Linked DNA regions of Homo sapiens. The protein of the gene in region 2 interacts with the protein of the main gene of each other region in a pairwise test. Each region holds a gene or a part of one and is shown on either strand. Other genes may lie near its edges. The genes, in order: ZMYND8 and ZBTB7A.

Region 1 (3,810 bases), on a different chromosome or scaffold from region 2:
ACTGCACTCCAGCCTGGGTGACAGAGCAAGACTCCATCTCAAAAAAAAAAAAAAAAGAAAAGAAAAAGAGGCAGACATAATCCTTATTTAAAGGAGTTTGATGTCAGGGAGCATAGTCCAAGATCGGGGTGCTGGCTTGTACCTGGGTGTGGTGTGTGTTCCCCAGATATCCTCTCTGGGGCATAGGCTCACCTTACCGGGGGCTGAGGCCTGTGCATCCATAACTGAGCCACCTTTACAAATGAGCTCCCGTGTGGTCATCGCCTCTACGTGCTGCTCAGTGCTTCTGGCTCTAACCTCCCTTCCAGCCCCTCCTCCCTGCCTGCCCTCACTTACTCAAATGCTCTGTATTCCTAGACATATCTTGGCTGATGCTGTTCCCTCCAGATTCTCACTTTCCGCCTGTTGAAATCCTACCCTTTATTCCCCACCAGCCCAGCTCCTCCAAGATGACATACTCCATATGGCAGCGTTTTTCAAACTTGAGTCATTCACATTCATTGTCTTTCCCGTTCTCAAGTCCTGCTTGTATAATTTTTGACTTTTTTTATTTAAAGAATCTTTTTTTTTTTTTTTTTTTTGAGACGGAGTCTCGCCCTGTCACCCAGGCTGGAGTGCAATGGGGCGATTTCGGCTCACTGCAACCTCTGCCTCATGGGTTCAAGCGATTCTCCTGCCTCAGCCTCCCAAGTAGCTGGGATTATAGGCACACACCACCATGCCCGGCTAATTTTTTGTATCTTTAGTAGAGATGGGGTTTCACCATGTTGGCCAGACTGGTTTCGAACTCCTGACTTCGTGATCTGCCCGCCTCGGCCTCCCAAAGTGCTGGGATTACAGGCGTGAGCCACTGCACCCGGCCAAGAATCTCATTCTTTAAAAATAAAATTAAGCTCATTTAAAGCGGGACACAGTAGCACGTCCCGTGTAGTCCCAGCTATTCGGGAGGCTGAAGTGGCTTGCTTGAGCCCAGCCGGGGTGATATAGCAAAACTCTATCTCTTTAAAACATAAAATAAAATAGGCCGGGCACGTTGGCTCACGCCTGTAATTCCAGCACTTTAGGAGGCCAAGGCGGATGGATCATGAGGTCAGGAGTTCAAGACCAGCCTGGGCAAGATGGCGAAACCCCGTCTCTGCTGAAAATAAAAAAAATTAGCTGGGTGCGGTGGCAGGCGCCTGTAATCCCACGTAGTCGGGAGGCTGAGGCAGGAGAATCGCTTGAACTCAGAGGGCGGAGGTTGCAGTGAGCCAAGTTTGTGCCACTGCACTCCACCCTGGGTGACAGAGTGAGAATCCATCTCAATAAATAAATAAAATAAACTCATTTTATTTACTTTTCATTTATTATTATTATTATTTTGAGACGGAGTCTCACCCTGTCACCCAGGCTGGAGTGCAATGGCATGGTCTCGGCTCCCTGCAACCTCCACGTCCCGGGTTCAAGCGATTCTTCTGCCTCAGCCTCTTGAGTAGCTGGGACTACAGGCGCCTGCCACCGCACCCGGCTATTTTTGTATTTTCGGTAGAGACGGGGTTTCACTATGTTGGCCAGGCTGCTCTTGAACTCCTGACCACAAGTGATCCGCCCACCTCAGCCTCCTAAAGTGTTGGGATTACAGGCGTGAGCCACTGCGCCCGGCCTATTAGTAATATTTTTTGAGACGGAGTCTCACTCACTCTTTCTCACAGACCGGAGTGCAGTGGCGCGATCTCGGCTCACTGCAACTTCCGCCTCCTGGGTTCAAGGAATTCTCCTGCCTCAGTTTCCCACCACGTCTGGCTAATTTTTTTGTATTTTTAATAGAGACGGGGTTTCCCCATGTTGGTCAGGCTGGTCTCAAAATCCTGACCTCAAGTGATCCGCCTGCCTCAGCCTCCCGAAGTGCTGGGATTACAGGCGTGAGCCACCGTGCTTGGCCTCATTTTTTTAGTAAAAAAATTTCCCCTGAAAAAAGCATCTGCAAGTATAAACTCATTTTAGACTTGAACACCACCCAATAAGAACAGTAGCACACAGTATACATAAAAGCTGGTGATAGGAATAAATCCAATCAAAACCAAAGCAATGCTACTCAATCCTAGATCAGTACCATTGCGTTGGGGGAAGGTTCTGGCCTTGGGGCAGAATTTGTTTTCCTGGTATTGTCCTGGCTATCAGTACCGCCTTCAAACTTTGTCCTGGAGGGAATCAGAAGAGATGAAAAGAATACTTTTCTTTCTGGGTGACTGAGTGTTACTGCTTTGGCCATTGGGAGGCCATCTGGCTCTTTGGAGGTATTGCTTTCTACGTTCCCTAGCCAAAGAATTGCTCTTCCTGTCTGGATTGACTTCCGCTGGGCCCTTCTCAAGGTGCCGACTAGATTTTAACTTTGCGAAAAGGGCGTGAACATTGAATCTGTTCGCCCACCGCATTGTCCACTAGGTGTAGGGGAGCTTGAGCGCAGGAGCCGGGTCTTGTTTGCCTCATTCTCCCCTAGAGGTCTTGACTTGTATCTCAGATGTGGGCCGGCGCTCAGTAAAGGAGGCCGCTGCTCGCGGAGATGGAAGACGCCGCAGAAGTGGCCTCAGCGTTAGGTGAGAATGTACTCCTCCAGCGCGGTGTGCTTGGCACGTCGAATTGGTTCGGCATTCCTGGCTTTCATAGGTTTTACCCAGAACTTGGTGGCGTCAAGACCGTGCAGGTGAACCTGAGTGAAATCCGGTTTTTGTTTGTTTTTTCTTCATGCATTGGCTAGTTGTAGGTAAAACTCCACCATCCACGACGGTGGGCAGCCATTCTCCCCCGGAAACACCGGTGCTCACCCGCTCTTCCGCCCAAACTTCCGCGGCTGGCGCCACAGCCACCACCAGCACGTCCTCCACGGTCACCGTCACGGCCCCGGCCCCCGCCGCCACAGGAAGCCCAGTGAAAAAGCAGAGGCCGCTTTTACCGAAGGAGACTGCCCCGGCCGTGCAGCGGGTCGTGTGGAACTCATCAAGTAAGTTTCAAACGTCCTCCCAAAAGTGGCACATGCAGAAGATGCAGCGTCAGCAGCAGCAGCAGCAGCAGCAAAACCAGCAGCAGCAGCCTCAGTCTTCCCAGGGGACGAGATATCAGACCAGACAGGCTGTGAAAGGTACCGAGCCTCCCCTTCTGTTCTCCGTGGCGCCCGCTCCCATTTTGCCACATCGACAGGAGAAAGTCATTGCTCTTTTATTTTTTTTTTTTAGTTCTCGTTTGTTTCCGGGCCATTGTATCTTGAAGGCCTTGCACATTCCATTTGGCATTATTTTTAAAAATTGTTTTGCTACTTGCTTTTTTACTTTCAAAAAGTTTTTTTTGTTCATTTTATAAATGATACATGCATATATTCTCCTTAAAAAGGGGGCAGAAAGTTTTACATAAAAGTCTGTTATCCCGTTTACCTTCCATTTCATTCTCTTCCCTTCCACAGTGGCCAGTATCAACCGTTGTAAAAGCTTTTCTATGCATGTATGCATGTATATGTATATATACATATCTGTATGTATATATGTGCGCATCATGTATATGATGCCATAAAATTAGTCCTTTTTCCCCCCTTTTTTTCTTTTTTAAAACATAAAAATGGTACCATACTTGCTTTTTTCCCCCACCCATCAGCATGTTTTGGAGGTCCATCCACATCAGCACATACAGCCCTGCCTTGTTCTTTTGGACTGCTGCATAGTATTTCATAGTTTATTTAAAGCATTCCTCTACTAATGGGCATTTAGGTTGCTTTCAGTTTTTTTTCTACTGTGAGCAGTGCTGCAATGAATATCTTTGTATAAATTTCCTTGTGCACAT
Region 2 (3,810 bases):
ACAGATGCACACGCACCCCCAGACATGCATGCAGGCACATGCACACAGACACGTACATGCGCACACATACATGCACATGCATGCAAACATGCACCCACAGACACACATATATGCACACACACGCAAACAGACACACCCCACCTCTTGGGCCCAAAGCCAACGAACGCTTCCCTGACCCACGTGGCTGTTAAGAACAGCCTAGACCAGGCCCTGCCCTTGTGGGTGGACATCCCGGTGGGTGACAGCACAGGCCAGACATAAGATGACAGCCACATCATATGCAAAGCGTGCCGGACAGGGTTGAGCTGCGGGAGGTGGGCGGGAAGGCACAGTCGTTCTTCCTTCCTGGAGGGCTGGTTCTTCTCTTCTGCACTTTTGGATTTTTTTCTTTTTCTGCTTTGGGAGAGGGTGACAGGCCCTCAGGCTTAGGGAGGGACAGCCCAGGCCGTGGAGCGGCTTCTGAGTTTCCCGTGAGCCTGGGTCATTTGCTTCAATCAGCCAACATTTATGAAGCGTCTGCTGGTGCCAGGCCTGTTCTAGGCGCCGGGGACAGGCCTTGCCGGAACCTGAAGGAGGGGAGGAGCAGCTGTGGGAAAGGGCGTTCCAGGCAGAGGGAACAGCCAGTGCAGAGGCCCTGAGGCCAGCTCAGCTTGAGAGATCACTGTGCCCCCCTGGGAGCCACAGGACTTGGTCCCTAAACAGCAGGAGTTCAAGGCCAGGCCCGGGCAGTTTGCAATTCGGTCTCAGGAGTCCAGAGGTGGCTGGCTGGGCCTCGTAGATCCGGGGCGGGCTGTAGCGGTGGGGGCAGGGGGCTGGCAGGCAGGGACCTGGCCAGGCTGGGTGACTCAGCACCACCCCCTGCCCCCCGCCCGCCCTGGGGTTCCCCCAGCCACGCCCACCGAGGCTGAAGAAAGAGGCCATTGTCCCAGCTTCCCAACCCCACCCCGTGGGGACAGGAACTGGGACTGACCCCTCCCCAGCACCCCGGCCCCCTCCCCAGCAGGCCAGGAGAGGAAGGTGCGGCCTGGACTCCGGCGCCCAGGAGTGCCAGGCAGGGGGCAAAGGGCACTTTGGGAGGCAGGCAGTGTAGCTGGTGGTTTGTCCCTCCTTGGTGAGGTTGGGGTACTGGAGGTCTTGGGGGGCTCCTCTTCCTCCAGGCAGGGGTCACTGTGGGTTCGTCTCTGAGCTCAGGAAGAGCAGCTTGGTGGGGTGCAGAGAACTGGGGTCTGCAGAGGGGACCAGGCTGAGCGAAGGTGGTGACCCCCACCCTGCCTCCCTGGCCGCAGGCCACAGGCCCGGTTTCATTCTGACTCGGGCACTGCTGGCTATCCCACCCGACCCGGGGCTGATCCCCTCAGTCAGAGAAACTGAGGCTTAGAGAGGGACAATTGTGGAGACCTCTTCCTCCCACCCCAATTTAGACCCACCTGCTTCCTCTTTTCCCCCACCCCGTGCTCTGGTCCCCCCTCCCCAGGACACCAGCACCTCCACCCTCCAAAAGCCTGGGAGCCCGAGGCCCCTCTGAGTCACAGCAGGGCGTTGAGTAAGTGGGGCCTGTGGTGGCCGGGGCTATAATTACCCAGGCTGGGGCTCGGGGTGATGAAACTAGGGATACCTCCGCCCCCACCCCGCCTCTGCGTGGCCCTCTGGCCTGCTGTGCAGCTCCAGGCAAGTCCCTTCCTCTCTCTGGGCCTCCCAGGCTCATCTGGGGAGTCTCTGCACGGTTCTAGAAAAACCTAGTGGCTGCCATCCCCTCTGTGACCCCGGCCCTGTGCCAGATCTGGGCAAGGCAGCCCGGAGACCTTGCCGTGGGCTTTGCAGAAGGTGATCAGTAAACCAGAGGCCTGGAGGCTGGTAACAGACCTGGTTAGGCCAGGGTTCTGTTAGCAAGTTACCACGTTCTGTTGGCTTCAGTGGGGCAGCAAGGCTAGAGATAAGGTAGGGGTCTGGTTGCCAAGGGCCAGGCCTTGACCCTCAGGGCAACAGAGCCAAGGAGGGGTTAAAGTTAGGGACACCAGCTCTGTAGCTGGTGCCAGAGGGAGGGACTTAGGGCTGGAGGAACCCAGAGGGGAGCCAGGTCTTTGGGAATTAGGAAAGGTAGAGGGGCATTCAAGGTAGGGCTTTGAGGGATGAGTAGGAGTTTGCCAGTCCCCACACTAAAGAAGTCTTCAGTCTATTGAGTGTGAGAAGGAAGAAACCCGAGGTGGCTCAGATGTGGGGCACAACAGGCAGCAGCAAGGAGTAGGTCAGGTTCTAGCCAGGGCTCTTGAGACCCAGGGCTCCCTCCTGCCCTCCGGATCCCAGGAAGGAGTACACTTTATTACTATAGATTGGCATCACTCAATGGGAATAGGCAAGACACCTACTTTTTTTTTTTTTTTTTTTTTTTTTTTTGAGACGAGTCTTGCTCTGTCGCCCAGGCTGGAGTGCAGTGGCACGATCTCAGCTCACTGCAACCTCCACCTCCCAGGTTCAAGCGATTCTCCTGCCTCAGCTTCCCAAGTAGCTGGGATTATAGGCGCCCACCACCATGCCGGCTAATTTTTGTATTTTTAGTAGAGACGGGGTTTCACCACGTTGGCCAGGCTGGTCTCGAACTCCTGACCTCAGGTGATCTGCCCGCCTTAGCCTCCCAAAGCGCTGGGGTTACAGGTGTGAGCCACCATGCCCGGCCAGCAAGCCACTTACATATTTTTACATTTTCTGACAGCCCCGTTCAAAAAAAGTCAAAGAGAGTTGGTGAAAGTGACTTGAAACATTTTACCTAACCCAGTAGATGCATTTCCATGTGTAGTCAATGTGCACGATCCTCATTGAGCCATTTTACATCACCTTTTGCATATCAAGTCTTCAAAAGCTGGGGTACCTTTTGCACTTCCAGCGCACATCAGTTCAGAGTGGCCACATTCCAAGGGTTCAGGAGCCACCTAGGCCACAGGCACCCCACTGATATGGTGACCGGCTTTGTAGGCTAGAGGCTCCAGGCTAAGCTGGGTCCACGCTGCCCCCATGGGGCGAGACAGGCAGGGAGGGGCCCTCAAGTCACACCCAACCCCTGCCTTCTCGGGGCTCACAATCCAATCAGGGAGACAGAGGAGAAACAAGGAAATCAACAGAAACAAGAGAGACCGGCCGGGCGCGGTGGCTCACGCCTGTAATCCCAGCACTTTGGGAGGCCGAGGCAGGCGGATCACTTGAGGTCAGGAGTTCAAGACCAGCCCAGCCAACATGGTGAAAACCCTGTCTCCATTAAAAATACAAAAATCAGCCAGGTGTGGTGGCGCACGCCTGTAATCCCAGCGTTTGGGGAGGCCGAGGCGGGTGGATCACCTGAGGTCAGGAGTCCGAGACCAGCCCGGCCAACATGGTGAAACCCCGTCTCTACTAAAAATACAAAAATGAGCCAGGTGTGGTGGCAGAGGGCCTGTAATCCCAGCTACTTGGGAGGCTGAGGCAGAAGAATTGCTTGAACCCGGGAGACGGAAGTTGCAGTGAGCGGAGACCACACCACTGCGCTCAAGCCTGGAAGATAGAGCGAGACTCGGTCTCAGAAAAAAAAACAATAGAAGAGTCAGGTGGTGATGACAGGAGGATGGAGACAGGGCTGGGGAAGGAGGTGACATTTGAGCCCAAATTTGACTGTGAAGATCCAGGAGGAAAAAAGAAAGTACCCCGGACTGCGGGAGCAGCACATGCAAAGGCCCCAGCGTAGCTTGTGCTTTGCACCTTTGCACGTCAGGGTGGAGCCCAGATAGGGGAGTGACGCTGAAGTGAGGGGAGAGTGGGCAGTCCTGGGTGTCGTGGGGTGGG

The links.
Region 1: the proteins of ZBTB7A (region 2) and ZMYND8 interact in a two-hybrid assay, tested with the Homo sapiens proteins (one large-scale study listed by BioGRID and IntAct).

What each region holds. Positions count from the first base shown.
Region 1 is NC_000020.11:47,238,066-47,241,875, reverse strand, and holds part of ZMYND8 (MYND-type zinc finger-containing chromatin reader ZMYND8), read left to right. Parts: intron 1-2,737; coding exon 2,738-3,118; intron 3,119-3,810. UniProt on the Homo sapiens protein: Chromatin reader that recognizes dual histone modifications such as histone H3.1 dimethylated at 'Lys-36' and histone H4 acetylated at 'Lys-16' (H3.1K36me2-H4K16ac) and histone H3 methylated at 'Lys-4' and histone H4 acetylated at 'Lys-14' (H3K4me1-H3K14ac).
Region 2 is NC_000019.10:4,049,681-4,053,490, reverse strand, and holds part of ZBTB7A (zinc finger and BTB domain-containing protein 7A), read left to right. Parts: intron 1-3,810. UniProt on the Homo sapiens protein: Transcription factor that represses the transcription of a wide range of genes involved in cell proliferation and differentiation.